Regions from separate parts of the Homo sapiens genome. Here region 2 is linked to region 1. The links come from fine-mapping of genetic effects on gene expression. Tissue or cell type: thyroid. Region 1 holds a variant in brackets; the other region holds the start of a gene. All regions are shown on one strand. Distances are from middle to middle.

Region 1 (2,911 bases):
TCTGCTCCTTCCCTCACTGCTGCAGGTTCTGGGTAATCTGCACACTTTTGCAGGGTCCTTGGAGCCACCTCTTACAAGAGTGCCATTTCTTCAAAAGCTATTAGGGCACAGAGGTGCACAAGATTGGTTCTGGAGCCCCGTGGGAATCTCGCTCAGGGGCGATAGTTCCGTTTAGGGCTGAGGTCATGCTGGCTGAGTGGTCTGATTCCAGCTGCTGGAAGCTGGAAGTGGGGTGTGGAAGGAGGCTGTGGCCACTGAGCCCCAATCATGTGACAGGCACTCCACTGGCTGCCCTCTTCGTGATGTTGATTGAAATCATCTGCTCACTAATAACAGAAACAAACATGGGTCCTTGGGTCAGAGTAAAGGAAAAGTAGGAGGCAGTTATGGGGTTTGTGGAGTATCCTACATGGCGAGGGCAGGAATGTGGATGGGACCTCAGGAAGGGATGGGATCAGAATCAGAAGTGACCAGAGTCTCCGTCCATCTCCCTGCTCTTCCTGCACACCAGGTTCTATTCCTCCTTCTACTGAGGTTTTTTTGCCTCTGTTCCCCTGTGGCCTCCTGTGGCTCCTGATCCTATAGGTACAAGTCCAGCCTCTGGGAGACATGAACCTGTTCCTGGGCTCAATTCCACATCCTTTGGGAAGGGTGAGCGGCTCACCCAGCACTACTGGAGTAGTGTCAGGTACAAAATGATGACCTTTGTTCCATCAGCGTGGACCAGTTGCCAGCTAAGAGGGTTCATGTCAGTGTGTTATCCTGAGCCTGTGAGGTGGTTTTCTTATGGGTGTTACCAATGAACATCAGAGAGCTGATTGCCATGCCCAAGGCGAGACCAGTAATGCCTCAGCGGGGGTTAACTCATGGCTACTGGGTCCAGGGAACGTGCTGTATCAGCCACGCTCTTCCTCTCCCTGTTATTGCTCTGTGTTCTAGTTGGAGAAAATGTCACAAGCAAAGAGCTAGAGGTAAGCAGGCTGGCACAGAGGGAAGCGTGTTAGGAAGTGTGTTGATGGCGTGCTGGTTGGGTAGGGAGGAGCCCTGGCCCTGCTGGTGGGACTATGAGAGTGAAGATGACAGCGTTCAGCACAGTAATAGGATGGGATGGGGGAGGGGGCGTGGGCACCCTGGAGAGGGAAATACGGTGGAAAATGAACACAAGGACCCAGAGCAAGAACACAGCATTCAATAATGAACGAGTGTGTTAGTCCATTCTCACACTGCTATAAAGAACTATCTGGGACTGGGCGATTTATGAAGAAAAGAGGTTTAATTGACTCACAGTTCTGCAGGCTTAACAGGAAGCATGATTGGGAGGCCTCAGGAAAGTTACAATCATGGTGGAAGGCAAGGGGGGAAGCAAGAACCTTCTTCACACGGTGGCAGGACAGAGACAGCACATGAGGAGGAAAGTGCCACATCCCTTTAAACCATTGGATCTCATGAGAACTCACTCACTACCACCAGAACAGCAAGGGGAACTCCACCCCCATGATCCAAGCCCCTCCCACCAAGTCCCTCCCCCAGCATTAGGGATTACAATTCAACATGAGATTTGGGTGGGGACACAGAGCCAAACCATATCAACAAATAAGAATTTATTTTATTTTTGCACCAAAGAACCCAGTTTGGTTTCCTTTCTTCATCCCACTAGCGAACACTCTGTGTGGCTTCCCTCATAAATGCCCCCCAGGACTCAGAATTCTCACCCCAAAGGATTTGAGACCGAGTCTGCAAGACACGGATCGTCCAGATGAGTGTTTTCCTCTTTTCTCC[G/A]CGGCACTGAGGGGCTGAGAAGCATCTGGAGATCTCATGCAACTCTCAATTTCCCACCACAGCCCCGGCCCCCACTCAGCATGGCCCAAAAAAGGAGCAAAAAGCAGAAAGCTCAAGGACCCTCAGAATCAAGGTAAATTTTCTTTCTAAATAACTTGAGAATTTTTTTCCCTCTAGTGCTTGAATTTTCTAAGCTCTACTTGATATTTTTAAGACGTTAAAATGACTCTGATTTTGAATCAACCTCGTTGGTCTTGCAAAGAAAATAACTGTGCTTTGAATGGAGAATAAACAAGTTGGGAAGGGAGAGTGAGGAGATCCTCAGCTCCTTCTGGGACCCAGACCCCACCTCCCCCTGCACACTCCATGCTCAGGTGCATCTGGAGGTGGAAAGACCCAGGGTCAAATGACAGCTCTGCCTCTTGAGACTGTGTGACCTTTGGTGAGTGACCTCGCATTTCTGGGTCTTGGTTTTCTCAATAAAAATAAAAAAGAGAGATAAATAGGTCTACGTGGAAGAATGCTTGGAATTAAATGAAATAACATATGCAAAATAGCTGTGCACTTCTGAAAGTCCTCTATAAATGTACTCTCCTGATGCATGACACTGATAATTATTGTTGCTAGTTATTCTCTCAACCTACTGTGTGCAAATCCCCTGTGCTTCGTGCCAGAGGAAGGAATTGGGTTGAAATTGTCTACTTGCAAAATGTATAATATTTTTCTTTCAGGCTTGTTCTGTCAAACAAAATCACTATTCAGTACCTGGGACATTACAATAATACATTTTAATGAAAACAATTAATTTGAAATGATTGCTTTGTTGTAAGTAGAATGAAAAAAATCATTATAAATTGGCAAATGGAAGAGAAAAATGTTTTTATATAAGTACTTAGGAGAGACATATTGAGGCCATGAATATTTCTAAAATAAGAGAACATAAAACTTGAATTTGTAAAGTTGTTTTCTTAATTTGGAGGGCTGTTTCAACTTGTTTCCAAATGAAGATAAAAGAACCAAGTTCTGCAGCTTGTGCAAATGTATGGGGAAATCAATGCAGGCTTTTTTCTTCTTCTTCTTTTATTTTTTTATTTTTATTTTTTGAGACAGAGTCTCTGTTACCCAGGCTGAA
Region 2 (2,911 bases), 23 kb before region 1:
GCGGCCCTTGCGGGCCAGCTGGAGTTCCGGGTGGGCGTGGGCTTGGCGGGCCGCGCACTCGGAGCAGACGGCCAGCCCTGCCGGCCCCGCGCAGTGAGGCGCTTAGCACCCGGGCCAGTGGCTGCGGAGGGTGTACTGGGTCCCCCAGCAGTGCCGGCCCACTGGCGCTGCGCTCCATTTCTCGCCGGGCCTTAGCTGCCTTCCCGCGGGGCAGGGCTCGGGACCTGCAGCCCGCCATGCCTGAGCCTCCCACCCCCTCCATGGGCTCCTGTGCGGCCCAAGCCTCCCCGACGAGCGCCGCCCCCTGCTCCACGGCGCCCAGTCCCATCCACCGCCCAAGGGCTGAGGAGTGCCGGCGCACGGCGCGGGACTAGCAGGCAGCTCCACCTGCAGCCCCGGTGCGGAATCCACTGGATGAAGCCAGCTGGGCTCCTGAGTCTGGTGGGGACTTGCAGAACCTTTATGTCTAGCTAAGGGATTGTAAATGCACCAATCAGCACCCTGTGTCTAGCTCAGGGTTTGTGAATGCACCAGTCCACACTCTGTATCTAGCTATTCTGGTGGGGCCTTGGAGAACCTTTGGGTCTAGCTCAGGGATTGTAAACGCACCAATCAGCGCCCTGTCAAAACAGACCACTCGGGTCTACCAATCAGCAGGATGTGGGTGGGGCCAGATAAGTGAATAAAAGCAGGCTGCCCAAGCTAGCAGCGGCAACCTGCTGGGATCCCTTTTCACGCTGTAGAAGCTTTGTTCTTTTGCTCTTTGCAATAAATGTTGCTATTGCTAACTCTTTGGGTCCACACTGCTTTTATGAGCTGTAACACTTACCGCTAAGGTTTGCAGCTTCACTCCTGAAGCCAGCGAGACCACGAGCCCACCGGGAGGGATGAACAACTCCAGATGCGCCGTCTTAAGAGCTGTAACACTCACCGCGAAGGTCTGTAGCTTCACTCCTGAGCCAGCTAGACCACGAACCCACACAGAAGGAAGAAACTCCGAACACGTCCGAACATCAGAAGGAACAAACTCCAGACGCACCACCTTAAGAGCTGTAACACTCACTGCAAGGGTCCGTGGCTTCGTTCTTGAAGTCAGTGAGACCAAGAACCCACGAATGCAGGACACAGTTAGGTAGAGGGGCCTCTGGACACAAAGGTGGGGCCCCTGGGGTGGAAAAGGGGAGCTCCTGGGGTCACATATAGTTGGCCCTTGCCCGGGCCCAAAGCAGTGCCTTCCTCCTCGCGTCCTGCCCCAGTGCCCTGCTGCAGACCAGTAACTACCCTTCTTCCAAACATTGGCTGATCAGGAACATCTGGCAGATTAACGAAAGGACACAGGAGTGGTGAAATCTCAGAGCAAGTTCCTAGGTGTCAGAGTTCCTAAGCTTTCTCTCCTTAAATGCCCTTTCTGTTGTGCTAGGGGCCTTTACATTCAGAAGTAAGTCTAAACACTAAGATGTGTTTGTGAACTCTAAACTTCCTCTTCCTGGAACACGTAGGTGTGCATTACAACTTCACTCCAGCAGCCACGCCTTCCTTTGGTTATTCATGTAGCCACCTTATCCTGCACAGGTCTGTGGCAGGCCGTGAGACGGTGACCAGAGAAGCAGTCAGCACTCACGGCCCCTGCCCTTTCAGAGTTTACGCTTGCTTGGAAGCCTCCAGAATGGGGATAAGCACAAGACATTTATGCTGGGCTTCATCCAGGAAGCTCTGGTGGAAGGAAGAGAAAGCAGCCCACACAGCAAGGTTCAGGAGAAGATTCCCATGAAGGACAACTGGGGTTCAGCCCCATCCAGCAGATGACACGGAGCCGGCCTCGGAGGTGTCCTCACCGTGGGACACTGGCATCTGAGCTACCTCAGGGCGTAGCCGGCCGATGTTCCCAGCCTCCCCCTGGGCACAGCCAGCCCAGGCCAAGTGGTCTAGGTAAGCAGCCCAGAAAGGGGACACAGGTGAGGTTGGGACAGCACCTTCCAGGGGGTTAGGTGAACAGCAAGGTCAAGAAAACACACAGCAAGCACCATGGTGGGGTGGGGACCGAGGGGTGACAAGGCTGAGGATGGAATCGCAGATGAGTCTTGAGGCATTTGATATCTAGCATTTCCTTTTGATTCTTTTAAAGTTTTCATCTCTCTGCTTACATTTACATGTCATTTACTTTTTTCATTAGAGCCCATAACAATGACTCACAGATATTTTAAGTTCCTTTTTGGATAATTTTCAAATCTTTGTTATATCTGAGCCTTGTTCTGTGTTTTTCTCTTGCCTTTTAATTTTTTGTTAGAAGCCAGACATGATGCATCAGGTAATAAAAACGGAGGCAATTAGGCTTTTGGTGTGAGGTTTTATATTAATCTGGCCAGGAGTTAGACTGCGTGTAATGATTGCTGTCGTTGTATATCCCAGGGGCTTTAGTTTTCTTGTGTTTTTCCCCATTTTCTTCGGGGTTTCCTATGAACTTCTTATATAAGAACCTGTGTCTTACAGCTGTCTGGGTTGTAATCCACTGTTACTATCCTGGAACCCTATTGACGTGGTGGTAAGGGGAAGATTCTGTAATTTTTTTTTTTTTTTTTGGAATGGAGTCCCACTCTGTCGCCAGGCTGGAGTGCAGTGGTGCGATCTTGGCTCAGTGCAATCTCCGACTCCCTGGTTCAAGCGATTCTCCTGCCTCAGCCTCATGAGTAGCTGGGACTACAGGCTCATGCCACCATGCCCAGCTAAGTTCTGTATTTTTAGTAGAGACGGGGTTTCACTGTCTTGGCCAGGATGGTCTCTATCTCTTGACCTTGTGATCTGCCCATCTCGGTCTCCTAAAGTCCTGGGATTACAGGCATGAGCCACCACGCCCGGCCGAAAGGTGAAGACAGAGAATCATGACCAAGACTGGTTTACCTGAGACTAAAAC

Direction of the effects. Alleles are on the strand shown, and positions count from the first base shown. SD is a standard deviation of normalised expression in the study named.
As copies of G replace A in region 1, the expression in thyroid of the gene that starts at base 1,548 in region 2 goes up (small effect, 0.22 SD a copy in GTEx).

The links. PIP is the estimated chance that this variant, and not a neighbour inherited with it, causes the effect. A credible set is the group of variants that fine-mapping cannot tell apart.
Region 2: it holds the start of LINC01644, and the variant in region 1 is the best candidate, but not a certain one, in a credible set for the expression of LINC01644 in thyroid (GTEx, PIP 0.52).

Annotation. Positions count from the first base shown.
Region 1 is chr22:47,462,319-47,465,229 of GRCh38, reverse strand. It overlaps LINC01644 (long intergenic non-protein coding RNA 1644), which reads left to right. Exons shown (of 3, transcript NR_109967.1): 2 at 1,842-1,912. Among named protein-coding and RNA genes, the nearest start is that of LINC01644, 23 kb to the left of the region's middle. The variant G/A (reference allele first, on the strand shown) is at 1,780.
Region 2 is chr22:47,485,748-47,488,658 of GRCh38, reverse strand. LINC01644 (long intergenic non-protein coding RNA 1644) reads left to right here and starts at 1,548. Exons shown (of 3, transcript NR_109967.1): 1 at 1,548-1,929.